Linked DNA regions of Homo sapiens: region 2 is linked to region 1. A link means that fine-mapping ties the variant in region 1 to the expression of a gene that starts in the linked region. Tissue or cell type: whole blood. Region 1 holds a variant in brackets; the other region holds the start of a gene. All regions are shown on one strand. Distances are between the middles of the regions. Region 1 overlaps RNF144B (ring finger protein 144B). Region 2 holds the start of RNF144B (ring finger protein 144B).

Region 1 (16,672 bases):
AAATATAAAACATTTTAGACCAAGCCGTTCTTTCCCTTGGGGCCTGTCGGGTGACCTTTAAGAAAAGCCCACAGTTGGTTTGGGAGACCGTCTTAGTCCATTTTGTGTTGCTATAACAGAATACAGAGGCTAGGTAATTTATAAAGAAAAGAGGTTTATTTAGCTCACAGTTTTGCAGGTGGAAAGTTAGAGAAGCACGGTGCTGACATCTACTTGGCTTCTGGTGAAGGTCTCATGCTAGGTCAAAACACAGCAGAGAAGGTCAAAGGGAAAGTGGACATGTGAAAAGAGACAAAACCCAAGGGGCATCCTGGCTTTCTAAAAACTCACTCTGGCAGGAACTATTAAGAATTCATTCCCGCAAGAACTAATTCATTCTCGCCACAGCAAGAACTCAGCCACTACCTAGAGAGTGGCACCAAGCCATTCCCCAACTAGGTCCCACCTCCCAACACTACTACACTGGGGAAGAAATTTCAATGTGAATTTTGGTGGGGATAAACAAACCATATCCAAACCATAGCAGAGACATTTACAGTTTGGGAGGATTTGCAATGTGTATGTGCACACACAGTTTGGTAACTTTCAAATGAAGCATGAATCTGTGGTGGATCTTTCCTGGGTTCTAACTGTTACCTGCATTAGGAGAAAGTAATGCCACTTTCCTATTTCTACCTCTGTTTCTCCCTTGCAGTATAGCATAGTGTGTTAGAATGCAGATATGGAGATAAGAAGACTCAGGCTCAAGTTCAGGCTTTGTCATTTGATGGTGTATGATTTGGGGCAAGTTGTTTGCCTTCTCTAGACTTTAGTTTCTTTGCCTGTAAGACGGAGGGAGGGAGGGGTTGACAATACCTACCTTTATTTCCTAAGATCCATCAGTGTGCTGAGCTGTTACGTTCTTCAAAAAGATTTCAGAGAAAGGAAAGCCTATAATGATTTGACTGGCTTCCTCACTAGCCTTTTATAAAAAGGTGGTTATATAGGTAATTACAACCTCACTGCTATTCTGAGATACTCAGAGATTAGCAGTTAGGATAGAGAGAAATGTCTCTTTTGGATTTGTTCAAAGTGTGGCTTTGAAATATTTAAACTAAATATCTAGAATTAGGACTTAACAGGGAAAAAAAAGTGCCAATACAACTTTGACAGTAAATAGATGAGCACATTTATGGTGGATATAAAAGATTCAGATGAAAGGGTGTTTCAAAGTACCACATATTTAAGAACTTGCTTACTTCCAAGAACATAATAATATAATTACTTGTTGGCTTGATATGTTAGTCTAGTATCATTTTAAGTTCCTTTTATTGAGAATTCTCTGGAACCACAAGAAATAATGAGGGATCTTACTCAAGGCCAATGCCACAGAATGATTCTCTGTCCCCTCTTCTGGTCATGAGACCTGCCAACCTTTCCCAAAGCTTTCAAATTCTCCAGCTCCAGATTCCCACGTCTTCTACTACTATTAAATGGGCCGAACTAAGTTCTGCCAGTTCAAAGCACTGTATTATTCTGTTGGTTTCTGGTACCTAAATATGCTTGCTTGCAAGGTTAGTTTTTTTCTTTATTATTATTATTATTATTATTATTGTTATTATTATTTTTGAGATGGAGTCTTGCTCTGTTGCCCAGGCTGGAGTGCAGTGGCACAATCTCGGCTCACTGTAACTTCCGCCTCCCGGGTTCAAGTGGTTCTCCTGCCTCAGCCTCCGGAGTAGCTGGGATTACAGGCATGTGCCACCAGGCCTGACTAATTTTTTTTGTATTTTTAGTTGAGTTGGGGTTTCACTATGTAGGTCAGGCTGGTCTTGAACTCCTGACCTCGTGATCCACCTGCCTCGGCCTCCCAAAGTGCTGGGATTATAGGCGTGAGCCACCGTGCCCAGCCGCAAGGTTAGTTTTATGCTTTCCCTTAACTTTGCTTGGGGTGGTTAGCAGTAAATCAGTGAATTTGTCTTTGTTTGTGAAATAACTTCAATATACTCACTGCTTATATCCATTAAGAGATTTAATGACAATACTATGGTGACTTTTGTATTTATTGGTCAAGTCACAGGTTTACAATGCCGATTTTATTGGCACTATATTTTTCCACTGACAACGGAGCCACTGCAGGGTCAGATGGCATCTGTGGAAAAAGAGCAAACAGTAACAGCATGAGAAATGGATTAGAGATGACTCAAGGAGGAGCTGGCTTCCTGGACCTATGATCTCATCCATGCCTAATGCTTACCACTTACTTATTCAAGGAAAGTAGTAAAATGTGGCAAGAGAGGAAAGAACAGCAGAAGAAAACCATACTATTAAGGCCCTAATGTCTTTGTCATAGCATCATAGTCCTAGAATTGTAAGTGACCTTAGATCTTCTAGTTCCCCCACCCTCCTAATGAAAGAAGTCATTTTCTGGGATGCCAGTATGGTTTGGCATTTAAGAGAATGGGTCTCAAGTTTGGTAGCTTAGGCTTTATTTATTCAACAAATATTTGCTGTGTCTTGCATAGTTCTGATGGTTTGAATATAGTGGTGAACGATCAGATTAAGCCCTGGTTTTCAAATAACTCAACTTTTCGTATGAGACATAGATGCTAACAAGTAAATACAGAAGTCAGGTGATGGTTTGTGCTATGGAAAAATAGGGTGAGGGGGGTCAGGAGTGCTGTGGGGAAGAGGGACTTCTACTTTATTAGATGATCAGGGAAGTCTCAGTGATAAGGTGTTATTTGAGCAGAGACCTGAAGGAAATGGGGAACAAGCCATACAGATATCTGGGAGAAGAGGGTTGTAGGCAGAGGGAAGCAGTATGGAGGTCTTAAGTTGGGAGTGTGCTTGGTGTATCCTGTTACAGCAAAGGAGGCTGGTGTGGCTGGAAAAGTGTGTGTGTGTGTGTGTGTGTGTGTGTGTGTGTGTGTGTGTGTAGGGGGAGTAGTAGGAGATGAAGGCTAAGTCCCATGATCTTCTCTCTGCAAGCTGGAGACCCAGGAGAACCAGTGGTGTATTTCCAGTCCAAGTCTGAAGGCTTGAGAACTAAGAGAGCCAGTGGTATAAGTCCCAGTCCGAGGGCAGGAGAAAACTGATGTCCCAGCTCAGGCAGTCAGGCAGGGAGACGAATTCTTTCCTCCTTTTGTTCTTTTTAGGCCCTTAATGGATTGGATGATGCCTGCTCGCAATGGGGAGGGTAAACTGCTTTACTCAGTTTACCGATGCAAGTGCTGATTGTATTAGTCTGTTTTCACACTGCTATAAAGAATACCTGAGATCTATAAAGGAAGGAGGTTTAATTGACTCACAGTTCTGCATGGATGGGGAGGCCTCAGGAAACTTACAATCATGGTGGAAGGGGAAGCAGCCACGTCTTACATAGTAGCAGGCGAGAAAGAGAGCACCACACTTATCAAACAACCAGATCTCGTGAGAATTCACTATCATGGGAACAGCATGGGGGATACTGCCCCTATAATCTAGTCACCTCCCACCAGGTCCCTCCCTCAACATCTGGGGGTTATAATTCAAGATGAGATTTGGGTGGGGACACAGAGCCAAGCTATATCACTGATCTTATCCAGAAACACACACACACATGCCCAGAAATGAGGCATATAGGAGGCATCCTGTGGCCAAGATGACACACAAAATTAACCTTTATGCATAGAGAATAAACTACAGGGGCCAGGGTGAAAGCAAGAAGACTACTTAGAAGGCAAACGTAATAATCCAGGCCAGAGATGATAGTGGCCTGGACCAGCAGATGGTAGGGGTTAATGTCTTTGGGCAGTCTATTGGGTCATTTTCTTTCATGTAATATAGGGATAATAAGAAATCATCTCACAAGATTATATAGAAGATTACAGTAGATAATCTAGATAAATTACTTAGTACACTGCCAGAATACAGCTAGCATATATAGCTCTACTCTTTTTAGTGTGGTTATCTAGCTTTTGACTGATAATTTCCAGGATTGGGACATACCATAGTACTGACTATTCAATTATTGGAAATTTCTAAATTGAAACCATCTTTGCTCTACATTCATTTGAAACTGGTTTCTATGTAAATTCTAACTATTAGCGTTACTTCCACTCTCTAAAATAAAATTGGTTAGAATCTAATTTTACTATTCCTGGTTGAAATCTAATTCTACTCACTAGCTGCATATTATTTGAATGAAGGTTATCTTTTTTTTAGAGGGCGGACGTCAGATTACTCATGAAAAATTCTCCTATAGTGCTCAGTCCAATGTAGGAAATAGTGAGCTATCTAGTAGTGAGATAAGTAGGCCTGCTATTAGTTCCAATTCTGTCAATAACTCTATGACTCGAATCAAGTTATTTCTCTAGAATTTCCTCATTTGTAAAAATGGTGGCTTGGTTTGGAATTTTTCTTTTTCTTTCTTTCTTTTTCTTTTTTTTTTTTTTTTTCCAGACAGAATCTCATTTTGTTGCCCAGGCTGGAGTACAGTGGTGCGATCTCAGCTCACTGTGACCTTTGCCTCCTGGGTTCAAGTGATTCTCCTGCCTTAGCCTCCTGAGTAGCTGGGATTATAGGTGCCTGTCACCATGCCCGGCTAATTTTTGTACTTTTAATAGAGATGGGGTTTCACCATGTTGGTCAGCCTGGTCTGGAACTCCTGACCTCAAGTGTTCCTCCCGCCTTGGCCTCCCAAAGTGCTGGGATTACAGATGTGAGCCACTGTACCCAGCTTGAGATTTTTCTAAAACCATGATTTCTTTTTCTTCATCATTTTCTCTTCTTTAAGCTGAGAATCCTCAATTACTTTAACCAGCCAAATTGTTTTCCTATGGGAGGTTTCAGTTTGGTAAGGAAGATATATCATTCATCTTACTAGTTACTATTTTAATATGCATTTATCTTCTACATTTAGGTCCTGTAATCAAATTAGCATGATCTTATTCTATTTTGGATGGAAACATGACTGTAGTGGAAACTGTGGCATTCACTCGGATCCCTCTTCAGGGCAATGTTTCTATCCTCCATTTCCCAGGGACTGGCTTATGGAACAATGACTGATTGCTACAGGGATATAAAGGTCTTTCCCTTTCAGCTTAATGAGGTGCCGCTGCGAAGGGCCCTTCCTACCTTGAGAGTACCCTGTTGGAATGTAGGGCCAGATCAGACCCTGGCTGCAGCTGCATGGCGGGTCAGGATCTCCCTCTGCCCACTTCTATTCTCCTTACTTCCTTATAGGCATGACTTTGGTGAGAGTATACCCCATACTCTTCTAAATGGAATTCTCCATCCCTGAATCAATTTCTAGGGAACACAGTTAAAGACACAAATCCGTGAATTATTATTTTTCTTCTGGTAATGCCTCCACCTATATAGTCCAGAAAAGTGTTTTTTTTTTTTTTTTTTCTCTGCAAAATGAGCATCTCATGACCTTTACAGGGTCTGCCTTTCATCCCATTGCCTCTAAGTTAACTAATAAAGTGTGATATATTCCTTAAGTGTGTTATATTCCTGCTTTATTAGTATATTTACACAATTCTATAGAAACTGGAAAATTTGGCTAGGTGTGGTGTCTCATGCACTTTGGGAGGCCGAGGCGGGTGGATCACTTGGGGCCAGGAATTTGAGACCAGCCTAGCCACCATGGTGAGACCCTGTCTTTACTGAAAATACAAAAATTTGCCAGGCACAGTGGCGCACACCTGTAATCCCAGCTATTTGGGAGGCTGAGGCATGAGAACTGCTTGAACCCGGGAAGTGGAGGTTGCAGTGAGCTGAGATCTTGCCACTGCACTCCAGCCCGGGCACCTGAGTGAGACTGTCTCAAAAAAAAAAAAAAAAAAAAAAAAAAAACCCTGGAAAACTCTTCTTTTTCTGGGTAGATCTCTTTGAACATACTTTAACATATCTTACCTTCTTGCCATAGGTATATTAAGAAATAGTAACTTATGCCCTCCCCCACCCTCTTGGGTTGACAGAATTCTTTTGGGACAAACTTCACTTGCATAACCTTTTTTTTTTTTTTTTTTTACTTTTTGAGATGGAGTTTTGCTCTTGTCCCCCAGGCTGGAGTGCAATGGCACGATCTTGACTCATTGCAACCTCCGCCTCCTGGGTTCACGCAGTTCTCCTGCCTCAGCCTCCTGAGTAGCTGGGATTACAGGCAGGTGCCATCATGCTGGCTAATTTTTGTATTTTTAGTAGAGATGGGATTTCACCTTGTTGGCCAAGCTGGTCTCGATGTCCTGACCTCAAGTGACCTGCCCGCCTTGTCTTCCCAAACTGTTAGGATTACAGGCGTGAGCCACTGCGCCCCGGCCTACATAACATTTTTTACTTCGATCATAGGCGTAACAAGTACTTTAGGCTTGGTATTCGGGTAAGGGGTGATGTTATAATGTGGAACAGAATTTTATTTCTTTTTACAAAGGAAGTTGTGAAAAGATAGTTTGGTGATCTGTGCTTGTATGTTGTGTAGACTTTTCCCCCCTTAAGCATGCCTTTGCCAAAGTTTAATTCTTCAAACCACATATCAGAATGTAATAGGCTGGCCAAACATGCAAATCATGACCAGAGAGCAGGCAAAAGTTGGTTTCTGATGAGAGAACTTTTCCATTGTTGCCACTAAGTCACCAAAGTTTATGTATTTCTTCTTTTGAAGTTGCACCCTTATTCCAATATTCTCTAAGTCTATTCCCACCTTTGTCCAGACTCTACTGATCCATTTGGTACTAGTGTGTGCCAGGCATGGTGTTAATTGTGGAGCAAGTGGCAGTCATCAGACACAACCAGCCCTGCTGTTATGTGGGCAGTAGACCCTCTGATAAAGGAAGTACAATATGTTATAAAGCATACAGAAACCCACCTAAAATAGACTCAGGGAGGTAGGAGGTTTCCTAAGGGCTGAGACTGAAAGATAATAGGGATTGCTTGATGGCATTGTTGATGGGGCTGTGGGTGAGAACAGTGCTCCAGGGAAAAGAGGCCAGCCACATGTGAGAACACAGAATCAGGGAAGAGTGACCTGCTGAGGAACCAAACCGGAAGATGTTCCTGGGACACATTGTTGGAAGTGTGGGTGTGCTCAGGCAGGAGGCCAGAGAGGCAAGCAGAGACTAGATGGAGGGCCTGGTATGCTGTGTTAAAAAAACATTATGGAGCCACTGGAAGGCTTTGTTTGGGAATGAGATAGGGAGGATGGCGTCGGTACAGGATAGAGAATGGACTGAAAGTGGGCAAGGCTGGAGCAGGAGGAGGGAACCATGGCAGGCTGAAGCAGAGCTCGGAGAACAATGTCCTTATCAACTTAGGATACATGTGTATGGCAGACTGCAGTTTTGATGCCTGGAGTATTTAAATTATTTTTGTGCCCCAATTTCTCTTTTTTCCTATCCATTTGGGATACTGTCAGCTTTCTTTTCTTTTTTTTTCTTCTTTTCTTTTCTTTTTTTTTGAGACGGAGTCTCATTCTGTTGCCAGGCTGGAGTGCAGTGGCGTGATCTCTGCTCACTGCAACCTCCGCCTCCCGGGTTCAAGCAGTTCTCCTACCTCAGCCTCCTGAGTAGCTGGGACTACAGGCACGTGCCACCACTCCCAGGGAATTTTTGTATTTTTAGTAGAGACGGGATTTCACCATGTTAGCCAGGATGGTCTCGATCTCCTGATCTTATGATCTGCCTGCCTCGGCCTCCCAAAGTGCTGGGATTACAGGAATAAGCCACCGTGCCCAGTGAAAGTACATTTTTAAAAATCATGGCTAGTACTCATAGAAGAAATAGGACCCTAAAGTACAAAATAATCATGTTTCAGGGCTCTCTTGGTTTATTACATTGAAGATAATTTTTAATTATAAATGTAACACATGCTAATTTAAAAATAAACCAAAAAACCTCAAAAAGCATGTGCATGATTCATATATATATATATATATATATATATATATATATATTTTTTTTTTTTTTTTTTTTTTTTGAGACGGAGTTGTGCCCTGTCGCTCAGGGTGGAGTACAGTGGTGTGATCTCGGCTCATTGCAATCTCTGCCTCCTGGGTTCAAGTGATTCTTCTGCCTCAGCCTCCCAAGTAGCTGGGATTACAAACATGCGCCACCGCACCCAACTAATTTTTGTATTTTTAGTACAGAGGGGGTTGGCCAGGCTGGTCTCGAGCTCCTGACCTCAGGTGATCTGTCCACCTCAGCCTCCCAAAGTGCTGGGATTACAGGCGTGAGCCACCACGCCCAGCCCACCTGTACTTTCTTCTAGACTCTTTCCCTGTGTACTTACGCACATCACTTAATAGAGAAATGGGATCTTTAACTACAGATACTTTTAACTTGAGTTTTACAAACATAGTACATTGTGGACAAGTTTCTGTGCAAAAATATACAGACCAACCTTCCTTTTTAAGTATTGTATAGTGTTCTATGATATGGTTGTATGAAAATTTATTTAACTGGGCCCCTCCTAAATAATGGATTTTAAGGTTGTTTCTAGTTTTTGCTATTATGAATACATTTTTTTTACTTATATAAATGTGAAAATACCTGTCCTTAGGATAACTTTTTAGAAATAGAATTGCCTAACCAAAATAGATGTACATTTTAAATCAGTATGTGTTACCAAATTACTGTTCCAAACTGTTGCACCAGCTTGGCAACTCCACCAACAGAGTAGGAACAGAGGCCTCT[C/G]TTTTGACACTCCGGGTATTTTCCAACTTTTCACCTTCTGTAATCTGGTATGTGAAAAGAACATATCTCATGGTTTAATCCATACTTCCTCTTTTTAGGAGGAAGCAAATTGTTGTAAGAGAAGCTCATCTCATGAATCTATCTTTAAAAAACATACAGTATGCTCAGTGCCAGTATAGTTTCAACTGATTTTATACCTTGGTATTAATAGTAATCAAGTTAGAAAAAAATGGGCCATATCTAGAAAAGTATATTACACATAGAAGACATGAATGAATGAAAAAATGGTGGTGTTCAGACTGAGGGAGATGCCTTATCACACAAAAAAATTCATGTCCAGTGACAAAATGTTACTAAGTAGGTAAAGGAGGTTTAAAAAATTTAGGCAAGTTGAAAAAGGGTGGTGAGTTAACTAGAAAATTCAGTTTTTTAAAATCCCATTTTCTGTATATTTCAGTTCATTAAAGATTGGTTATATAAGGCTTATCTATGTGGATTCCAGATATGCAGTGTACCCCTTGGAATCAGGTGAGACACAGTGCCTCATTTCCATGGAAATACATGGCTCTGTGTTAACTGAAAGCCTCCATGGTTTTGAATCATTTCCCACCCACAGTAAGGAGGTCTTTTTGGTTTGACTCTTCTGGAAAATATGTGTGAGGTATTTACTACATGAATGTAGGGTATTTTTTCAATCTGCTTAAACCTCATTTTATTCATCTGTTTAAAAAAATTACGGAAGGAAAAGCAAGGGCATTTGAGTACCTTTCATATAATATGTAATATGCAAGGGTACTATTTTTTCCCCCATTTACTCTTCCAGTTTACAGATAAACCAATTCAGAGTTAAATAACTTGCCCAGGATCTGTAATGTTAATCCCTACATCATAGTGTCGTTTGGAAGAAATAAAAACAAGCTCTGTGAAAATATATAATGTATGGCCTAGCACATAGTATGTGGTTCCTAAATTTTTTTTGTTAGCATGAAAATGGATGAAGGCCCATATTTGGCTTTTGTGATCTTAACCTGAAATGTCTAAAGCTTGACAATAGCCTATAAAATGCAAAATTGACAACTGGCTACTGATTTTATATACGTAAAAGTTTAGTCAGTACAAAACAAATGTAAAGAACTACTGGTTTAAAAAATCCAAGGAGTTTTTCAGAGAACAGAAAGTATGTAATCAGAATATAGTGGTGGCCATGGCCTCATATTAGAGATTGAGCATGAACATGAGTGTTCTGTGAACTTTCCACTGTGTGATTTCGGGTAAGTTATTTGAGGAAACCAAGGCCGAGACATTCAGAGGTCTGATTTACACAACTGGAAGTTCCCAGTGCATTTAGCATATTTTCAGATGTTGAAACTGAAGTCAAGGTTCAAGGCCAGGCATTCTGCCTCAATGACTGATGTTCTCCCACCCTCCAGGCGCATTGTGTCTGTGGAAGTTACTGGTGTTCTTAAGAGGACCTCAGTCTGACGGTTGTTTCCAAGTGATTCTTCTGTGTTGAGGGTGTTTAATGCATGGGTTACTGCAGAGCACAGAGACCTTTTCTGCAAATGGAAAAAAATATTATAGCTTAACATCTGCTTTCCCTAGGTAATGTGTTAATTAAAGATTGTTTTAATATGGAATGATGTCTAGCCTTTGAAAAACTTTATCTTACGGTTTATGGTATTGATAACCTTCAGAAAAGGAAGACTGGTTCAAATTATGTCAATTAATATGAAAAAAGCCCACTCAATATGAAGCCCCTTGACTTCTAAAAACTTGCTTTTTAGAAAATGTTAAAAAAAATTCCAGGTTTTGCAGGATAAATCCTCGGGGGAATATTGTGAGGTGAGGAATAGTCGTGGTCTTGATGCAATGTAACTTATAATTAGAAAGATGCTGATTTTGCTGTGGAGTCATTGAATATCATTATTTCAAAATAATTTTGAATAAAATGAGATTTCTAATAACCAACCTAGTCATTGTCCAACCTTTTCTACTTTTTCAGAGTTCAGTTCTCTTAAATCTAAGAGATTCTCTTTTGTAATGTAGCTCAAGAGGAAGTTTAAGGGTTAGGTCTATTCTTAACTGATGTCCCTTGTTCCTATCATTCCATGTATAGAAATAATATCTTCTTGAGGAAACTGTTAAGCGTCACTCTTTCCCAACTTTTGGGTCATTAATATGAGCTATTTTGCATGCTGGCTTTGTAGGTTATATCCTGTAGGAAAAAATGTTGGTGATGAGTTAGCTTTATTCTGTCACTTATACAGTGTTAATATTCTTTTAAAATTTCAAAAATTCAGATAGTTATTAATATTGCTACCACTAGTTTTATTTAAAAATGTTTTAATTTGTATAGATACGTAGTAGGTATATATATGATTAGTTTTAATTAAGATATTATTTCATTATAATTTATTCAAACTGGTTTAAATACTGAGACAGATTTTATTTAAAATATAGGATTTCTGCTTTTAAGCAGTATTAAAATCTGAGATTTGATGAATGGTATAAATTTTATCTTTTGCTTTTAGTTTTAAAATATTGTACAACATCCTGTTTCTATTCTTGAAGGTGAAAAAGAACAAAAACTTTTAAAAAGATGGAAAAAATTGTACAACAGTTTGTTATGAAACAAGATAAAGATTTTTACAACAAATACCTGTAGAGTTATCCCTTGGTATCTTCAGGATATTGGTTCCAAGCCCCTTCCCACTCCCCACCCCAAAGATACCCAAATTCATGAATGCTCAAGTCCCTTATATAGAATGGTGTAGTATTTGCATGTAACCTATGTACATCCTCCCATATACTTTAAATCATCTTTAGGTAACTTATAATATCTAATACAATGTAAATCTATATAAATGGGTTTTCTACTGTATTTTTTGTGTATTTCTTATTGTGATTTTAAAAATATATTTTCTGTCCGTGGTTGGTTGAATCCATGGATGTGAAATCTGAGGACGGGGGGCTGACCGTATACCAACTATCTCTTAGATTGTGCCTAAGTCCTTTTGTGTTGATATAACAAAATACGCGAGACTAGGTAATTTATCAACAACAGAAATCCACTACTCATAGTTCTGAAGGCTGGAAAGTCCAATATCAACGTGCTGGCAGGATTGGTGTCCCGTGATGGCGGCTCTCTGCTTCCAAGATGGCGTCTTACTGTTGCTTCCTCTGGAGGGGAGAAATTCTGTGTCCTCACGTGACAGAAGAGATGGAAGGGCAAGAGAGCACTCCCTTTAACCTTGAGCCCTTTCATAAGGGTGCCAGTTCCATTCATGAGAGTGGGGTCTTCGTGACTTAATCACCTCCCGTGGGGGTTCAGTTTTAACGTAAATTTTGAAGGGGACACCATCATTCAAATCATAGCGGATTCTAACATTAACTTTTTGCTTGCTTTATCACATATCTCTCCGTCTGTTTAGCCTGCTGTCCTTTGCATGGTGTAGTTTAATATTCATTCTGCATTCTCTAGTGGAATGTGAGTACTCAATGTGTTTGCTTAGATTGGGTTGAATGGTTATATTTTATTCAGGTGACTAGCATAGCCGTACCTCATGGTTGAAGGGGTTTCTTGAACCTTTACTAACTTGGGTTTTGTTTTTTTTTTCTGTGTTGCTGGGACCTTAAGTGCACTTTTAGAGATTCAGAAGCGCTAACAGTTCAAGCAGAGACTCTAATAGTAGGAGGAAGAATGAAATGACAAATGAATTCAGTGGAATCTGGCTATGCTGAATCCGTGGTATGCTTATTCTCACTGCCTGTGCTGGGTCTGTGTGCTAAGGCTTTGGTGTCAGCTGAGGGCTTACAGTTCTGAAGGCTAATGTTTCTTTGGAGAAAGTAGAAGGATGTAAACTTGGCAAGCCTTCTTGTTTTCTTTCTCCTGGAATGGTCAGTTACTTTTCTGAGCATACTGTGTCATAAGATAGCACCTGGGCCAGAGGGATCTCTTTGGGATTAGTATAAAAAGTGGGGCCTCCTTCTGTTAAGAAAGGCAGCACAAGTGGGACAAAAGGAAACTCCTCTGAAAGGTTAATGGATGAGTGATTGAATTACTCAAATTGGAAGCAGATTTTTCCAACGCTAGTGCCAGTTCACTGCTCTGATTGGAATGTTCTTCCATTTTAGCAAATTTGTTTGGCTTTCTTGTGAAGCCTGGACCAGGCTGCAGCATTTCCAATGGGTTTCTCTTCAGAGCTATTTCTGTCATAGAGTTTCTTAATTTAGATATTTCATGATCATTTGAGATAAAGATAGACGTGTTTGATCACTCTTGGTTGGTGGGAACTGGAGGTACTTTTGATTGGAGTCCAGATTTAATCTCCCATATTGAATGACTGTCCTCAAACTTACAAGGTGGATCTTAGTAATCTTTTCCAGAAAATGTAACGGCACTATTTTGGGCTAAAGTATTTAAAGGCTCTCAATCAGAGTTTTAAATTTTGCATATATAATTTCCCCCTTAAGCTTCCTTTGCTGTTTCTTTTGGAACTAGCTGAATGCTTGTATTCTCTATGGAGAGGTTGGGTAGAAAAGAGTGATGAGGGGCATAAAAGTATCTTCCCTGATTAGAATGGAGGGCATGGGTGGTACTGAACTAGTGGTGCTTAGACTTGGTTGCAAATGGGAATCACTTCAAGAGTTTAAAAATATTGATAACAGTTCAGCAAGGTGGCAGAATATAAGATCAATGTACAGAATCAATTGTATTTCCATATACTAGTAAGAAATAATATAATTGCATTAATAAGAAAATAATTCCATTTACAATATCATTAAAAGGAATAAAATATTTAGGGATAAATTTACCAAAGTAGAAAATTCTCTGAAAACTGCAAAATACTCTAGAAAGAAATTTTAAAAGACTAAATAAAAGATATCCCATCTTCATGGATTGGAAGACTTGTTAAGGTGGCAGTACTCCCCAAATGGATTTACAGATTCAACACACCTCTTGTAAAAATTCCGACTAAATTCTAGGCTTATCCCAAAATTCCTATGGAAATTTGAGCAACCTAGAATGGTGAAACAATCTGGAAAAAGAACAGAGTTGGAGAGCTCTATTCCTCATTTCAAAACTGATTACAGAGCGACAGTAATCAAAACATTGTGATACTGTCATGAGGATGGACAGATAGATCAATGGAATAGAATTGAGAGTCCATAAATAAATAAATAAATCTTATTTTTTGTCATTTGATTTTCAACAAGGGTGCCAAGACAATTCAAAGAGGAAAGAAATGTTTTTCAGCAAATGGTGCTGGACAACTGGATATCTGTTTGCAAAAGAATTAAGATGTCTGTGATCTTCCTCATACCACAGACAAACATTAACAAAAATGGACCATACACCTATAACAGCTGAAACTATAGAACTCTTAGAAGAAGAAAACATAGGAAAATAGAAAAATTTTCATGATCTTGGGTTAGGCAAGACATTCTTAGATGTGACACCAAAAGCATAAGCGACAAAAGAAAAAGCAGATAAATTGGACTTCATCAAAATTAAAGACCTTTTTGCTTCAATGGACATCATCAAGAAAGTTAAAAGATAACTCACAGAATGGGAGGAAATATTTGCAAGTCATATCTCATAAGGGATACAGCTAGAATATATAAAGAATTCTTACAACTCAGTAATGAAAACACAAATAACTCAGTTACAAATAGATGAAAGTATAGATAGTTCTGAATAGGGACTTCTTCAGAGATGATGTACAAATTACCAATAAGCATGTGAAAAGATGCTCAAAATCACTAGCCAACAGGGCAATGCAAATCGAAACCACAATGATATTCGACTTCACATTAAGATGGCTATAATAAAAAAGACAGAAAATAACGAGTTTTGATGAGAATTTAAAGAAGTTGAAACTCTCATACACTGCTGGTGGGAATGGAAAATGATGCAATTGCTTTGGAAAATCATCTAGCAGTTCCTCAAAAGGCAAAGATAGAGTTACCATATACCATACCTACTCCTAGGTAAATATCCAAGAGAAACGAAAATGTATGTCCACATGAAAACTTGCTCATAGCAGCATAATTCATAATACCACTCAACTGGAAACAACCCAAATGTCCATCAACTGATGAAAGTATAAACAAAATGTGGTATATTCACACAATGGCATACTATTCAGCAATAAAATAAATGAAGTACCAATACATGCTACAACATGTATGAATCTTGAAAACATTATGCTAAGTGAAGCCATTGACAAAGGACCATATATTGTATCATTCCATTTATATGAAATGTAGAGAGTAGGAAGATCTATACATACAGAAAGTCAAATGGTGGTTCCCTAGGGCTGTGCATGGAGGATCTGGGGGAGAAATGGGGAGCATGTACTAATGGGCACAGAGTTTCTTTTGGGATTATGAAATGTTCTAAAATCAAATTTGGTGATAGTTATACACTGTGAATATACTAAAAATACTGAATTGTACACTTTAGATGGGTGCATTGTATGGGTACGTGAATTATATCTCAGTTATAGATATCTGAATTATATCTCAATAAAACATGACATAATATAAAATATATAATATTTACATATCATATATAATAATGCTATATATATAATATACACTGACACCTGGATCCTTCTCTTAGAGAGTCTGAATTAATTGGTCTGTGGTATGGCCTGGGCATTGGACTTCTGGAAACCTTCCCAGATAATTCTATTAAAAAGCTGATGTGGAGAATCTTTGACATGGGTCTTGGTACTTACAAGTGTGGTTTGTGTGCCAGTGGCACCAACGAGACCTGGGAACTTACAAGGAGGGCAAAACCTCAGACCCCACCCAAGATCCACTGAATCAGAATCTGCATTTTTGATGGGATCCTCAAATAACTTGGATGGACATTCAAGTTTGAGAAACATTGTCAGTAAGGTAGTTGAATAGTAAGGCAGGCGAATGTTATCTCTGAAGTTCCTTATCCTCTGTCCATCCACCCCTCCTCCTCCTGCCTATGGCTTTTTATTAAGGATACCCTTCCCAGTAGTGTCCCATATCTTCCAGTGTTTCTTGTCCATAAAAACATACCAGGCTTAGATCATTTTCTTCGGGGGCACTGCTCTCTGCTAGGGAACCACTGGCCTTTTGGGATATATTCTCCTGAGAGCAAATAGGCAGTGGACTAGCACAACTGGTTCTATATAGCAAATGAGGCGACCCAGGAAGAAAGTGTAGAAAGAAGAGAGTTTAGGTCCTTTCCTGAAATTCCAGCATTTAAAAGTTGAGTTGAGGAAAATGCAGAAGATTGAGAAAGAGTGACTAGAGAGGAAGAATGAAAACCAGAAGAGTATGGGATCCAGAAGACAAGGGGAAAAAGGGTTTCAGGAAGGTGGGAGTGGTTAGCTGTGTGTGATACTGCTGTTGAGAGGTTGGGAAGGAAGAAATGTGTACTGGATTCAGTGACCTAGAGCCACTTCAGTTGAGTGGCAGGGAGGAGTTGGGATGGGATTGGTGAAGGAGTGAGGGAAGACAACTCTTTCAAACATTTGATTGTGAAGAGTTGAGGAGTGAAGAAGGCAGTATACAGCCAGGAAGAGGAGTGAGAGAGGGCTGTTCTATGCTGTTTTATTATGACTTTTCTTTGATTTCTTTGATTAGGATATTTTGAACATGTTCAAGTATAGACAGGACAAAATTCAAGACATAGGAAAGAAAACAGGTAATGAATAGGTAAATTTCCTGAAAGGCAGGAGGAGATGGGAACCAGAAAAGCAGAGTTGGCTCCTATGTGTCAAGAAAAGAAGAACAGAGGATGGATGTGTGTTTGGGTGGGTTCATATGTTTCAGTTATCAGAGGTGAAGGAGCTTGGCCACAAAGTTGAGCACAGACTGAGTATCCCCTATCTCCTTATCTGAAATGCTTGGGACCAGTAGTGTTTCGGGTTTCTGATTTTTTTTTTGATTTTGGAATATTTGCATTATACTTACTAGTCTACCATCTCTAATCTGAAAATCTAAAGTCTAAAATCCTCCAATAAGCATTTCCT
Region 2 (16,672 bases), 23 kb before region 1:
TCCTACCTGTGACTAATTTGGTGTCTGTAGGGTGGAGTCTGAATTCCAAGAATTGAGTTCCCCATCTGTTAAGCCAAGAAGTAATTTGAATCTTAATTCAGGGCAGTCCTCTGTGTCAATGCTGGATGCAAATGCACAGTACGAAGTGCTTCATTTCCTGTAAACTAGTTAATACATTGGCTGTGGTGATGACTATGGGAACACTGGGGATTTTTTCCCCCCAAAATTGATTGTCTTATGCAGGAATTTGGAGGTGACAGTAATAGCAGGATTACCGTAAACCTTGCAAACATAAGGATTATCAAGACAATTTCTTCTGACTCTCTAGTGGAGAATTTTAATTCAGGGCTAGTGCAGAATCATTTTTTTCTGGAGAGAGTGAGGTGCTGAACTCCACGATCTCATTGGTCCTTAACCCTAACTTGCTAGTGGTGTCATATAGGATATGAGAGTCCTGGACGACAGAATCCCGTGGAGTCTTGATCTCTCATTCAGCTCTCTATCCTGAGTCATTATGGGCTCTCATGTGGAATAATGGCAATGGCAGTTGGACATGATTCTGTTTTTTTCTTGTTGGGTCCCAGTTGGTTTTGACTTGCTCTGTAAAGCGTTGAGATACTTCATGTTAAGTATGAAATATAACCAAGATGACATGTCTCAAGTTTTGTGAAACTTATGTTATCATACTACATGACTGGATGTATGTCCTATATGTGTATGTCCTATATATGTGTATGTAACTGGATGATGTCCTCTGGTCACAGTTTTACTTTCTTTTTTTTTTTTTTTTTTTTTTGAGACAGAGTCTCGCTCTGTCACCAGGTTGGAGTGCAGTGGCACAATCTCAGCTCACTGCAAACTCTGCCTCCTGGGTTCAAGTGATTCTCCTGCCTCAGCCTCCCAAGTAGCTGGGATTACAGGCATGTGCCACTATGCCGAGCTAATTTTTGTATTTTTAGTAGACACAGGGTTTCACCATGTTGGTCAGGCTGGTCTCGATCTCCTGACCTTGTGATCCACCTGCCTTGGCCTCCCAAAGTGCTGGGATTACAGGCATGAGCTACCGTGCCCGGCCCACAGTTTCACTTTCTATGTAGTTCGATATCTGTTCTTTGACTGCTGTGCTACCCTGAATACATCTCTGGCATAGTTTCTATCATACTATTTTGTAATAGTCTTATTTTGTATTATCTTAAGCTTAGTTCTAGATGTGAAACACTCAATAATGCTGAACGAATAAGATCCACCCCGTTAGATGCAATAGAAAAATGCAAATTAAATTGTAGCTGTTTGGAAATGAGAAATGACCAAACTGTCAGAACACCATGACCTTTGCCTTATATCTGTTCCTGTGGAGAGAGATCTGCATCTATTGCAGAAGCTGGTTTCCCAGTACTTGCATTCTTATAGCTGATTTATTGAGACCGAACAAACCATTAAAAAAATTATGTTTTAACCACAGGATGTAAGGAAGATGTAAAGTCTAAGGTATGTGTTTCTAACGTAGGTACTAAGGTAGAATAGAAGGATAATATCAAGAACAACTCTAGACTTTTCTTTATTGATTAAAGAGAATAATTTTCCAAAGAAGAAATTCTACTTGTTGATTCTTATATAGGGGTAGAATGCACTTTATAATATATACCTATTATATGTTATATATTATGTAGTAGATACATATTATTTCAGTATCTTACACATATATAGGATCTGTAAATTATATTTATTTTTTGGCCTCACATGCAGGGAAAACTTTAAGTATGTTTTAGATTTATTTTGATTTGCTTTTATATGACTTTAGGTATATTATCAGTTAATACAATTTTTTTTTTTTTTTGAGACAGAGTCTTGCTTTGTTGCCCAGGCTGGAGTGCAGTGGTGCGTGATCACGGCTCACTGCAACCTCTGCCTCCTGGTTCAAACAATTTTCCTGCCTCAGATTCCTGAGTAGCTGGGATTACAGGCATGTGCCACCATACCTGGCTAATTTTTGTATTTTTAGTAGAGATAAGGTTTCACCATGTTGGCCAGGCTGGACTTGAACGCCTGACCTCAAATGATTCACCTGCCTTAGCCTCCCAAAGTGCTAGGATTACAGGCGTGAGCCATTGGCCAGGCTGGTCTTGAACTCCTGACCTCAAATGATTCACCTGCCTTGGCCTCCCAAAGTGCTAGGATTACAGGCACAATCTCTGGTGAACAATTTGTAATATGTCATTGCTCAGAAAGTTAAAAAATATTTTTGTAGATTGTAGTGTCTGGATTTTACATTTCAGTTTGAAATATGAAATGTTACATTTACTTATTTTTTTAAAAAATATATGTATTTATTTATTTATTTGAGACAGGGTCTCACTCTGTTGCGCAGGCTTGGAGTGCAGTGGTGTGATCACAGCTCACAGCAGCCTCGACCTCCTGGGCTCAAGTGATCCTCCTGCCTCAGCCTCCTGGGTAGCTGGGACTACAGGTATGTGCTGCTATGTCTTGTTAATGTATTTCTTATTGTTTGTAGAGACAGGGTCTCACTATCACAGGTGCTCAGGCTAATCTTGAATGCCTGGGCTTAGGCCATGCGATTTTCCCAAAGTGCTAGGATTACAGGCGTGAGCCACTGTGCCTGGCCTACCTTTATTTTTGTAGTATAAAATAAGCAATTTTTTCTTAGACTTGTTTGAGGGCTCCTTTTTTTTACCTACCCTTTAAATACTGATGTTCTTTTGGGTTCTCTTTTTTTAACCCTTTCTTTTCCTTCCCCTTTCCCTTTCTTAGATAAATAACACTGACTGAGTTCCTAATGTGTATCAGGCCAGGACCATGGTGTACAGCTGAGCAGGTTGTGCAGTACACAATTCCAGGAGCTGCCAGTCACTGCCTCCACCCCAACCACCACCCTGGCCCATCAAGATTTGTATCGTGCAGGCATCTCCGTGTATCAGGCACTTTGGTAGCTACTTAAAAAAACCACTTTTACCCTCACAACAGCCTATGAGATGAATGTCATCATTCTTATTTTATAGATGAGAAAACTGAGTTTCGGGTATATTAAATAACTTCATTAAGGTTACATAATAATGAGTGGGTAGTGGAGTTTGCCAAGGTCCAAATCCTCTGCTTCCCTCTATAGCATGTGGGTTGTCTTAGCTTTTGGTAATCTCATCTATGGCCACCACCTAAATGATGGCAATTCCCAAATGACTCTCCACCCTAGATCTCTCTCTGTTGATAGCCTACTGGTCAGTTTTTCCAGTATGCCCCAGAGGCACTTCTGATTCTATAGATCTTAATTTGAATTATCATGGTTTCCTTACCATCACTTCTCTTTTATTCCCCCTCTTAGTGGTGCCAGCAGTTGGGGCTATTCTTTTTCTCTTATCCCCCTGCATCTGATATAGTTTTGATGTGTGTCCCTGCCCAAATCTCATATTGAAATGTAATCCTCATTGTTGGAGGTGGGGCCTGGTAGGAGGTGATTGCATCGTGGGGGCAAATTTCTCACGAATGGTTTAGCACCATCTCCCTAGGTACTGTCCTGGGGATAGTGAGTTCTTGTGAGAGCTGGTCGTTTAAAGGTGTGTAGCACCGCCTCCCTCCCCCCTCCCCCCGAAACGCTCTCTTGCACCTACTTTGACCATGTGACAGGCCTCTCCAGAGGGCCAAACAGATGCCAGCATCATGCTTAAAGCCTATAAAGCCTGCAGTACTGTGAGCCAATTAAATCTCTTTTCTTTATAAGTTACCCAGTTTCAGGTATTTCTTTATAGCAATGTGAGAATGGACTAATATAACATCCAATCAGATACCAAGTTCCATCACTTCTGTTTCTGAAATCTCTCTCCATTGGTTCCCTTCCTTTGCATGGCAGTTGTCACTGCATTAGCTCAGACCCTCATTCATTTATTCTGGATGTATCAGCTCTGTCTGAATTATGAAAAATTTCACCTAGAGTCTCATGTCTAACCCTTTGTTTTAGCTGTTTGCTCAGCCTGGTTTACCCTTCTCTACCACACCTATTGGGCTACTTGAAGACATAGATTTAAATCACTGATATGGTTTGGATCTGTGTCCCCAGCCAAATCTCGTGGTCGAATTGTAATCCCCGATGTTGGAGGTGGGGCCTGGTGGGAGGTAATTGGACCATAGGGACAGAGTTCTCATAAATGGTTTAGCACTATCTCCTGGTGCTGTTTTTTGTGACAATAAGTTCTTGAGAGACCTAGTTGTTTAAACATGTGTGGCATTTCCCTGCCCCACCCCGCCTTGCTTCTGTTCCAGTCACGTAAGACATGCGTGCCTGCTTCCCCTTCACCTTCTACCATGATTGTAACCTCCCTGAGGGCTCCCCAGCCATGCTTCCTGTGCAGCTGCAGAACCATGAGCCAATTGAACTTCTTTTCTTTATAAATTACCCAGTTTCAGTTATTTCTTTATAGCAATGTGAGAACAGATTAATATAATCACCTTCTCAGAGAAGACTTGATTCTTTTCATCAACTCCTTTCCTTTAAATTCTTCTTCTCTGTGCTCCCAATAGCACATCATGCTTAAGTCTATCATATCACACATTATGTATCACTCACACATTGGGTACAACTATCAGTACCCTGATAATTGATTTGCTTGTCTTACTCCTTCCCTGGATTGAGAGGTCTTTGAGGACAGGGAGACCATGTCTAATATCATTATCTTAATACAACCTAGCAGATTGTCTGGGAGGAAATCAATAAATGCTCCAGAGAATGAATATCCATTCACACTGTAGACTCCTTAGGAAGATCTGAGAGAGTTTGTTCACATAATATTATAGCATTCAACGTGTTTATTTAGTCTTATTAAATTTTGACTGCAATTTAAAAAAAATTTGCATAGTTGCATGGTTGAAAATAATCAGTGGTGATGTTACTCAGTTGTGCAAAATATTTGGGATAATAGGCAGCACTATTCGTGCTTATGTTCTCATTCATATTGGCAGCAGCTTCTTCCCTTATCCTGTTAACAAGAGATTATAATTTATGAATGGTAATTTGAAAAGTGGACTCTGTGTTGAACTTTGGTTTAAGGCTCAGGAGATTTGCATCAACACCAATGAATAAACTAACCTCTTAGAGGTTGCTTTTTATCTTTCCTAGTTCCTGTCCACCAAAATGGTCACTATACCAAGAAAATTCCTTGAAATAGATTATCTCAGAACCTAAGCCATTGCTAAATCTGAAGGTTGGACTTCCTTTGGGATGGTTTTCATTTACATTCACCTTCCTCATGTAACTCAGATTTAGGTCTCATTCTAGCTTGGCCTGTGTCTGGTTTGGGCCAATCTCTTAAATCTTCCTGGACATCAGTTTCCTTATTTTTTTTTTTTTTTTGAGACAGAGTTTCGCTCTTGTTACCCAGGCTGGAGTGCAATGGCGCAATCTCGGCTCACTGCAGCCTCTGCCTCCCAGGTTCAAGCGATTCACCTGCCTCAGCCTCTCGAGTAGCTGAGATTATAGGCACCCACCACCACGCCCAGCTAATTTTTTGTATTTTTAGTAGAGACGGGGTTTCACCATGTTGGCCAGGCTGGTCTTGAACTCCTGACCCCAGATGATCTGCCCGCCTTGGCCTCTCAAAGTGTTGGGATTACAGATGTGAGCCACCGCACCCAGCCCAGTTTCCTTATTTTTAAAATCAGGTTATTTGCTAAAATAGCTAGGAAGACTTTTCAAGCTCAAATATCCTACCGTGGGTTCTTTTATCATCTTATTGCCCCTGTCCTTTTTCTCTTCCTCCCTGACTGGTGAGCTGGTCCTCCTACCTGCCCTAGCATGGCACATGTAGATACACTGTGTTATTCAGCACTTTGCTTTGACCTAGAGGTTTTCTTCAACTTGGAGGGCTGAGAAGCAATGTTTGCTTGTGTCGTTTGGAATGGTGCCTGTTGGCGTGCACAGATCCTTTCCACAAAGGGCCTGTGAGTCCCTTCCTTTTAGGAAGCACATTCCTGACAGTGGTTGCAAAAGTAGAGAGGGATTGCAGAGTGAACACAGATTCTTGTGTCAGAGCGACATTCCTAAATGGCAATGTTCAGCAGACTTAGGTGATTGTGATCTATGGGGGATATGGGGAATGAGTAGGTATGCGATTCATTATGAATGTCACACAAATGAAGTGTCCAAGGGTTTGGAGCAAGGAAGCACTTCATAATACCTCACAGCTTCTGGATTATTTTGTTACATTTTTGTTTAATTGAGGGTACAACCAGTTAAGTTACAAAGCACTTCAAGTGAAATCATTGTTTCATCAAGAAGTGTCTGTATTTTATGAGGTAAACTAAGATTATTCCCGATTTGATTCACAGGTATTCTAATTTCATCATTAGATGCAAAAGGACAAGTGAGGTACAAGCTGTTTTTTGATGAGATGTGCATGGGAAGTGTTTCTATAAAACAGTTGTCTGCCACGTGGGAAGGCAGGTCTGGGCTGTTAGAAGTAGAAGAAAGAGATTTAAAGAGCTGGGAAGGAGGGAGAAAATAAAGAAAGGTGGCCTGTGAGGATATGTACAGACAGAGAGGTAGCAGGCGCTTAAGGCCAAGAGGTGAGCTGTCCCTGTCTGGGCAGAAGAAGTGCGCTAGGGGCAGCTGCCTGCACCCCCTGCTCTGAATTCCTGCAACAGCGGTCCCAGGAGAACAAGAGACAGGTCCTGACAAGCAGTAGAGTCGGTGCAGCGCGCCCGGGTTCGGATAGGGTTAAGGCCAACACCTGCAGCTGAAGTACGACCCACATGGGAAGTAGGAAGTGCGGCGCCTGAGCTTCCTGTATAAATAAACGCGCTGCTACCGCTGCTGGCGAGCTGTGCCCCACGCTCCCGCTGCAACAGTCCCGGGCATCGCAGCTGCCAGTCAAGGCTAGGAGGCGGTCGGGGACTCCGCCTCCTCCCGACCCGTAGGTCTGGGAGCGCAAGTCCTGTTGCAGTCTTGCAAAGTGTAAAGCTGTCAGCCGCAGAGCACGGAGGAAAGACGGAGAGAATGGAAGAGCTCCTGTCCGGTGTGCCAGCAGCCCGGACTGGCGGTGAGCGCGAGGGAGGCTACTGAGAAGCCCGGCGACGGAGGAACGCAGGTCTGCTGCCAGGTAGGTTTAGCGAGCTTTTTAAAGGCTACAGGCGTTGCAAGACCGGAATGGTGTTGCTGGACTAAGGAAAAAGGACAGGAAACTCACTGTGACACCACAATTTTTCGATTTTCTGTCTCTAGTGCTCAAACCATACAGAACTGAATTCATTCTGAATGCCTTAAACACCTGTTAACTTAGAAGAAAAATGCCTTTGTTAAAGGAAAGTAGTTTCATTTCTAATAAAACAGTTTCTATAATAGAATGTATTGTAGAATCCGAGATTAGACCAGACCTCTCCCTAGGTCTTAAGGGGAGACCAAAAGTTGGCATAATCTCGGATTATGCATTATAGTGCTTATTTTATCAGGTAATTGCTAATGAAACAGTGAAACTCTGATACTACGAGAGCCATTCTCAAATTTAAGTTAAAATCGAACTGATTGTCGTTTGTGCAGGGAAAAGGTAGGTATCTTTTGCTTATTCTTTCTAAAACACCTTTTGTTTTTCTCATGAGTTTCAAGGATCCTGCTGTAAGTCTACTCCTCATGCATATACACTATTCACATAAAGATTTCCCAGAAATTAATTCCCTTCTCTGGGAAATGTTCTTTTTTCATGTTCTCATAACAGACTGTCAGTTTCATATTGCTTTCTGCCACATGTATCTTATCAAAACATTAGCTCTGAGGTTCTTAACAGGACTATCTCTGCTCTTCCGATTTGGCATTTCTGGACGTTTATTTGAACATTGAGAGGTATAAATTAAATGGCAATGTATCTAACATTTCTGAGGAAGCAGATTAGGGGGTGTCTGTGCCCAGAAGCAAAATAAATGAACTTTGGGATGACTCAGTTTTTAGGGTGTGGGTAAGAGGCAAAAGGAACCTAGCCAGTCCTAACTGAGTTGCTGGCTAATTAGAGTATCTGTCTGCCGCAGCTTTCACTGAAATGAGCCTCTTGGTCCCTTTCACATCAAATCCCTCTGTGAGTCCCTCCTTCTCCTTAGTTTATCTTTCCTTCACAACCTGGGTCCTTTTCATGGACAGCAGTGCCTTAAATACTTCTAAAACTATCCTGAGGGGGAGAAAAACCTATAGCAGATCCACAAAGCCACTTGTAGATAATTGTATTATGAAATCCAAGGTCATGGTTTCACACAACTCCTGCTCTGCCCTTGCACACCTTTGACTGGCATTTTTTTTTTTATTTTTGTCGTGGGCATAAACTTAGAAAAGTGGGAAAGGGAAAAACCTCAGTTTCAAAAGTAGTCTCTGACTAATTAATTATCTTGATTAAAAAAAGGTAAACATATATAGTGAACGTGAAAAAGATGTTGAGTAGTAGAATTGGGTTGCTTGGCTTTTTATTTAAAACAAACAAAACTCAACCAAAAAAACCCCCCAAAACCCCAAACAATCACCCTAGATAACTTTCTCCTACACTACTGTGCTGGAAGTCGGGCTTGAGTGTGGTCAAATCCTGCCCATTTACCCAGAGTTTTACAAATATTTACAGTCATCTATGCCAAATATCTTTGTGCTGAGTCCCAAAGAACATTCTCAGCATTCAAAAGGCCCATTCTCATGAATGGTTTCAGTTCATTGGCAATTTAAAGGCATTCAGGCTTCCAAACTAGGTCAGCTTAAGACATGTCTTTTTAAAATAATCAGTTTTTGGGTCTCAGATTATGAACCAGGTTTTTGGAGCCAAACTCTACAGCAGAGAGAAGAGTATGCTCTCTCTGGAAAGAAAAAGCTTATTTTATCTACCTGGTATGACCATTTAACTTCCTGAAAAACGTCTTTCTCCTCAGTAGTATGAATATTTTTCATCTGAGGAGGTGCACTTAAAATTTCCTTCTTGAAAAGTCATTTCAATATTTTAGACGTTTAGAAACATTTATATGTATGTCAGAATCCTTTCTCCGAAGTGTTTCTGCTAATCCTGGCTTCTTTGTTTCCCCTGGCCTTGACTTTATGACATTACTTTCTTGGAGAGTGAAGTTTTTAGTGTTTGAAATCTCCAGTTTGAGATAGAGGTCAGGAATCATGCTGAACCCAGATGTTACTGAAGGAACAAAGTCTGAGCAGTTTTGGGACTAAGCCTACTTTGTACAACTGATTATTTTGGATGTGGGAAAAGGGCCAAGCTGCCAGACAAGTCATGCTTTTCACTTGGACTTTGGGGAATAGGTATCTGTAGCCATTGCTCCTAAGTACTGAAACATTTCTTTCAGGGGTGCCTACCTTAATTTATAGAAGCTCCTTACCTGAAACAAATGGTCAATATTTTCAGCTTGTGAATTTCTGGAAGTGAATACAGATGAGAACCAGGCCTTTAATATTTTCTCTCCTCCAAGTACAATCAGAAAAGTTATCCACTCTACTACTGAGTGACTGATTTGCTAGGTGCTAGGTTAGATGCTGGGATATAAAGATGGCTAAGATGTGGTCTCTGTCCGGAAGAAATTCTCATAAGGTCAGAAGTGACTTGGGTCTAGAGTGGTAGTTCTGAATTCACATTGCTTTGCCAGATTATAAAAAGTACTTCGATGTTTGTCACCTCGATCATCTTAATTTTCTTGGTAGTGTTACCTTGACCATTTGACCATTAAGAGGTATATGACACCTAAGTTAATTTATGTAAATATTTTAATTCATAATTTTTACCTTTAGGTGTATGTGGGAGGTCTTGGACTAAAGTTTTAGTTTTATTAACTTTGGCATTTGCTATTTACCCAGTCGGTGAGTACTTTGGAACCTAATGCATCATACCATAGTTGTTATTAAAAAATGGATAACTATATATTAAATGAGTAAAAATGACCAATGCTTCTGCAACGTGGAATGAGGATCTTCTCATCTATGAGCAGATCTCTTTCTTGAATTCAAAACACAGCAATCTAAGTGAAATAGACTTTTCTTATTCATAGCTGGAGATACTTCTGATCACATGGCTTGGAGTATTTATTAAGAGCATACTTTGAAAGCCATGTCCCATTGTTTTCTAAATCTTTTGAAGTCACGAGTTTGAGTCCCAGCCCTTCATCAACTTGTTCTTTGTTTTTCTTGGGAAGATAAAACAAGACAACTCGTTTCTGTCTGTTGAACTTGTGGCTGAAACCATAAACCCACACATTCTCCTGCATATGATTATATGAAATCCTCTGTTGAAAACCTCCTCAACTAGTTGACTCTTAATAAGTAGGAGCTGGGTTTAATCACCTTTACATCCCTAGCACCTAATGTGTAGAATTTGTTCTTTGTGTGTTGACTTTGTTTCCTTCATGATAAATTCCTGTTATAGGAAATTAATTGGCAAAGACATACAAAAATCTACACCTGCACTTTGCTCAGGTGGGGTGAAGATTCCTCTTCCAAACTGGTTTCCAATTTGTTTCTAATTAAAATTTCTATATGAAACTTTTAACTTTAACAGGAGGGGGTAATATTGGCACATGCTTTTATTCATTTGAAAAAAAATTTTTGATTTAGATATTCGTGCTTTAGCGGCTCTGGTTTTCTGGTAATGTCCTGACCCAAGAAATCAGCCTGGCTCTTGCTCTATAAGGCTCTTTGAAATACCACTTCTCCTTGATTGGTCAATTACATCATTGTCTGACCTGCCTTTAAGTGGCGTTCCTTCCTGCTTCTGAGCTTTGTTGTTATGCCAGGCATAGGGAAGAAAATTATTTAGCAGGGCTGTGTGAATAATTGTGGGAGGCAGGGAACCACTGATTAAAACAGGAGTGGGCAAGGCACAGTGGTGATATTGAAGAGGTAGCTACCATGATGAATGCAAAATTGCCATGCCAAAAATATCATTGAGCTGTTATTCTCATATTCACTCCCACCTTCTTTGATAAGTTTATATTGTTTGGAAAACTGGGAATGGATTTCTACCTCTTGGGCCTTACCCTGTAGGGTAATGAGAACATGGAAAGAAGGCAAGAAGAAATGTGCTTTTAAGAAAAAGCCAGTTGCGGTGGCTCATGCCTGTAATCCCAGCACTTTGGGAGGCTGAGGTGGGCTGATCACGAGGTCAGGAGATCGAGACCATCCTGGCAAACACGGTGAAACCACATCTCTACTAAAAATACAAAAAAATTAGCCAAGCGTGGTGGTGGGCGCCTGTAGTCCCAGCTACTCGGGAGGCTGAGGCAGGAGGATGGCGTGAACCCAGGAGGCGGAGCTTGCAGTGAGCCGAGATCGGGCCACTGCACTCCAGCCTGGGGGACAGAGCCAGACTCCATCTCAAAAAAAAAGGAGCAGCAGTTTGCAAATGTTAAAACTAGATGTGCCAAGGGCCAGGCGCGGTGACTTACGCCTGTAATCCCAGCACTTTGGGAGGCCGACGCGGGAGGATCACGGAGGTCAGGAGATCGAGACCATCCTGGCTAACATGGTGAAACCCCATCTCTACTAAAAAAAAAAAAAAAAAAAAAAAAAAATTAGGTGTGGTGGCAGGTGCCTGTAGTCCCAGCTACTTGGGAGGCTGAGGCAGGAGAATGGCGTGAACCCAGGAGGCAGAGCTTGCAGCAAGCTGAGATAGCACCACTGCACTGCAGCCTGGGCGACAGAGCGAGACTCCGTCTCAAAAAAAAAACGATGTGCCAGATGTTCTGTCCTCTGTAGGATTTGGAGTTAGCTTATCACAACGTCATGTACATTGTTGGCCATGCTTGGACATCAGCACCAATATATATTTTGTAAGAAAAAATATTAGATCTCACTAAATTAGTTGTAACAGACTTTATTCATAACCTAATTTCAAGCAGCAAAGAGATTGTTTGGAAAACAGTTCTTGCTAATACTTTAAGATGCTTCTCCTTCCTGATGAAGTGCCTACTTTTTTTTTTTAACCCACAAAAAGGTTAATAGGGCTATATTTGCATATCAGTTCCATTTTTAGAAGGTTAATAGTCTCCAAGTTACAAAGTTGTGATCTCATTGCCATCCTAGAAACTGTTGAAATGACGATGTTAAAACTAAGAAATTATAGACTAAATAAAGTGCTTTTTGAGCACTTTAAGCCATGAAACAGTGGCGAGAAAACAGAAGTCCTCTTCTCTACCACAGGAGGCACAGTGATACAATACTGCCACCTCACAGAGCCTGAATAGGTGAATATTTACTTTCTTACATCTAAGACCTAAATATTTCCTGGGTTTGTTTATGCTAGAGGATATTTTCTAATCTATTTCATTTTTTCAAATAATGACAACTTATGTGTAATATCATGTATGTACTCATTGAGTTTGAGCATTATTCTTTTAAAAAGGGCAGATCATGAGGTCAGGAGATCAAGACCATCCTGGCTAACATGGTGAAACCCCGTCTCTACTAAAAAATACAAAAAATTAGCTGGGCGTGATGGCGGGCACCTGTAGTCCCAGCTACTAGGGAGCCTGAGGCAGGAGAATGGTGTGAACCCAGGAGGCAGAGCTTGCAGCGAGCCGAGATCGCGCCACTGCACTCCAGCCTGGAGACAGAGTGAGACTCCATCTCAAAAAAAAAAAAAAAAAGTAATTAATAGATATACAGTTTATTTAAGTAATTGCAGTTCCCTGACTACGAGAGGGGCAGCCTATGTTTCCATTTGTTCATGTCCTCTTAGGTTAGGGCATGCATTAGAACTGTTTTTCTGATTGAAAGAATGTACGCTGGTTCATCTTGTCCTTGAATGACCAGAGAGCTGGTTGGAGATGCAAGCGGAGAGTAGAGCTACAACACTGGCCACAAAGGAGGTCTACCATAAGCCCTTGCTTCCTTCATTGCTGTTGCTACTGCTACCAGCCAGCAGGTCACCCTGCCATTGTATTTGGATTGTATTTAGGGTAGAACTTCAGCTAATGGCTGATAATGCTCAGCACTTTACTAGACTCAATTAGTACCATTGGGTTCACTAATAGTTTCTGTTAGGAAAAGGAACCAGTAGCTAACCAAACTACTCTATTGGGCAGAAGTACCAAGATCAACATAATGCTGATTTTCAGATTGCATTGAGTGGAAACTGGTTGCCTGGTGTGTTCTTAGCTGATATGGGGATAGCTTTCCTAACAAGGCAAGGATGGGACCTTTAGATTGCTGCTCTTTTTTTCTGCTTTATTAGAATATTAGCTTCCCGAGAATATGTCTCCATTTTACAAGGCAACACTTCAGCCTTTCTTCATCACCACCCACCCTTCTCAAAAACTTTCCCCTTTGCTACCTCCCTCCCATATTTATGCATTCATATCTGTTATTCTAGCTACTTCACAGTGATGACTCGATGTCTCACAAAGGCATATAAACACATTGAGAGTATACATATGTCTCCTCTTCTGTTTGTCCCCTGTACTTGAGTAACTCTTAGAATTTCATAGCATAGCTTGGAATTAAGACCTCAGTGCAGATCAACTGGATTTTTATTTACATTAATATCCTGTGGCATCAGTAATATCTAGCTGATTCATTTTAGTAGCTTTCTATTTCTCTTAGTCTCCTTAGTTGTGCTTTAGCAGTTTCTCCAAATTTTAAAGTTTCTGCATAATAAAGTAAAAATTCCAAAATAATTAGGGATAAGTGTCCTAATAATAATTAGGGTAAGTATCCTAATAAAACATTATCCCTTCCAATTACACTATCTTTTTGTGTAAGGGAATAACTGTGTTGATTTTGGATAATCAAACAGACATAAACTACATTGGTTAAAAATACTTTGAATAGCTGGGTGTGGTGGCTTACACCTGTAATCCCAGCACTTTGGGAGGCCGAGGTGGGCGGATCATGAGGTCAGGAGTTCAAGACCAGCCTGGTCAATATGGTGAAACCTCGTCTCTACTAAAAATACAAAAATTAGCCCGGCGTGGTGGTGGGCACCTGAAATCCCATCTACTTGGAACGCTGAGGCAGGAGAATTGGTTGAACCCGGGAGGTGGAGGTTGCAGTGAGCTGAGATCATGCCACTGCACTCTAGCGTGGATGACAGAGTGATACTCCGTCCCCTACCCCCCAACCAAGAAAAAAAAAAAAAAGCTTTGAATGTTGGCTCTCCCATCATTTGCATTTTTGGAGCAGATTGCTTTTTCAGGCCATCAGCAGAATATGAAAATTCCTTATACATTCTGTGCTGAAGTATTCCCTTCTTTGACAATTCTAATGACAAGACACGAGGGGAAAGGCGACTTTCCATTCTTTCCTATCAGATAGTACTTGCTTCTCATATAATGAACACTTTATAGTGCAAGAGACACATAGAGCAGGTAGAACTGCTGGTTCTCCTTTCCTGGTAATTTAGTGCAAACTCAGACGTTTCAGAATGGCTTTCCTTCCTTACATGGCCCAACCAATCTGTCTTGTTCTATGATTAGGTATATATAAGCAAGTGATACCTGCTACCAACCTTAGAATGCCTAAACTTGAAAGGCAGCTGTCAGATTTCAAGGTGCCCCTTGCATTCTCTGCCAAAATTCTTTTCACAAGGGGTTCTTGACACTCGGTGAGAGGCACAGTCACATCTATAATCACTGTAAAAGTAATTATAATTGTTAGCTTTTAAAATCAAGTGGTAGGGTGGATAATTCAAGTCACTTTCTTATTTTTGATAGAAATGTGAGGTATGAGGCAGTAGGAGTGAGTTAGCCTCTTTCTGGAATGAAGACTTTTCTTGAAACCTGGAGGGGAGTGGATGTGAATTGCTTGTGCCCCTGTGAAGTTGTGGCCCAATGGGAGGGACAGGAGGAGCTGGGAGTGTGTTATCAAATGCCCTGAGCTTCCTGAGGCTCTACTATTGGGGGTTTCATGCTGTGAAGACCGGTGAATAGTAATATGACACAAAGGAAGAAATGCAAGGAAACCTTGGAGCCATTCACAGGCATCTCAGGTGTGGGGAAATTCATTAGAGGCTTTCAGGATTCTCCTGTTTACTGATTGAAGAGCTCATTTTGCAATGAATCAATGGTGAAAGGATTTCTTGTTTGATATTCTTTTTTTTTTTTAAATGAAGTGCTCACTGCATTTCATTCATTTTTTTAACTATCCATTGTTGGTTTTGCCCAAAGTGAGAAACGAAAGGGTTGGTTTTTAGTCTGTGCATGGTGCAGGTTTAGGCTTCTGCAATGGTGCCTGGGGGGCTGCTGAGTGGGGAAGGTCAAGGGGACTGGCTCTGGACACCCACTATTGGGTGCTGGCACTTGTCTACCTGAATCTCTTTTATACAGTGGTGGTTTGACTAAGATTTTTGTTTTTGAAAGCTCATTGCTTGAAAAATGTCTGAGAGCCATTGCTTTAGGGAATTGGTGTTATTGTACACAGAAAAATAAATCACTTTTTGAAGAATCATTTTGGATTGTTCACATCTCAAGGAGATGAAATATGTAACTTTTTTCCTCTATGTCACTGAGTCATAAGTCCTGCCTTTTTGGAATGCTTGGAATTTTTTAAAAAACAAAATGCATCTCTGCTATGTAAAGGTTTTTCTATTATAAAAATTACATATGTTTTTTATAACTTTGACTTCATAGCCTATAGGCATGTAACTCCTTAGTTTTAAGGAGTAAAAACTTACGTACTGTTTATAGTAAGAGACAATTATGTTTCACATGGTCTTGATTACCACAATTTTTAGTTCTACCTTCAAAAGAAGACTATTTCTAAGAAATATCTAATTATAGGTATTCCATTATGGATAATAATTGAGGTATTATTAGAGGAATCCAATATGTCTTTCAAGAGTATCCAATTAATTTCTAAGAGGTATCCCAATTATGTCTTTGTTTTTCAAGAGTACATTAAAACTTTGGCCTGTTTAATATTTCCTTCTAAAAAAATAATATAGAGTAAGACTGAGAAATACTTGGATTTCTCGAAGAGTACCTAGATCTCTTGCTAGGTCAGAACAACAGGATTGGCTATTCACACCAGCTTTCTCCACATGGCTAAGTGTATTTGACATTTGGGGTGTGGGATGGTTCTGGCCTGTGTCATTACCCTTTTTCTCCTACTCAGGAAGCATTTACTACCTACGTTTCTTCTTGTTGTTTTACTTGGGATTTCTCTTGAAAGAAAGATAATTCAGAATAGATTGCATAAGCAGTGAAGCAGCGTTGAGAATGTACAGGTGAGAAGACAACAGATGGGAAGTTGGTGGGACTGTGTGCCATGAGCCCGGGAGTACTGGAGACGCAAGCTGATGACAGTTGTTTAAGCATGAACTGGGAGGAAGGAAAAGGTAAAGTCATTCATTTTTACCCGTATGTTTATCATAAAGAGAGATTTTTTACAAAAACTCAAAATCCTGAATTTGACGTGCAGGTCTATTTGAATTTAATTTGCTCTTGGATGACAGCTCCTCAGTAGTTAATGGAATAACGCTGTGTCTTGAACTTTATCCGGCATTTGCTGAGAAAAAAACCATGTCTTCCACATGGAAACTAACCATTAGTTAGCTTCCTATTTAATTATTTTGAATCAGGTTTTCTGGTACTGAGTACTGGGAGTAGGTGAAAAACCTTGAATGCTTCAGGTTGCTCGAGTTAGTAATCGTTGACTTTCTGGTATGACATTAAGAAAGTGGATGTGGACAGATTGACAAGCAAATATCTCATT

Evidence for each region.
Region 2: it holds the start of RNF144B, and the variant in region 1 is fine-mapped to the expression of RNF144B in whole blood (INTERVAL, PIP above 0.99). The same link has a PIP of 0.9 or more in blood mononuclear cells.

What each region holds. Positions count from the first base shown.
Region 1 is chr6:18,403,584-18,420,255 of GRCh38, forward strand. The region is part of intron 2 of RNF144B (ring finger protein 144B); the gene reads left to right. Among named protein-coding and RNA genes, the nearest start is that of RNF144B, 25 kb to the left of the region's middle. RefSeq lists an enhancer at 11,049-12,248. The variant C/G (reference allele first, on the strand shown) is at 8,655.
Region 2 is chr6:18,380,528-18,397,199 of GRCh38, forward strand. It overlaps RNF144B (ring finger protein 144B), which reads left to right and starts at 6,823. Exons shown (of 8, transcript NM_182757.4): 1 at 6,823-7,103.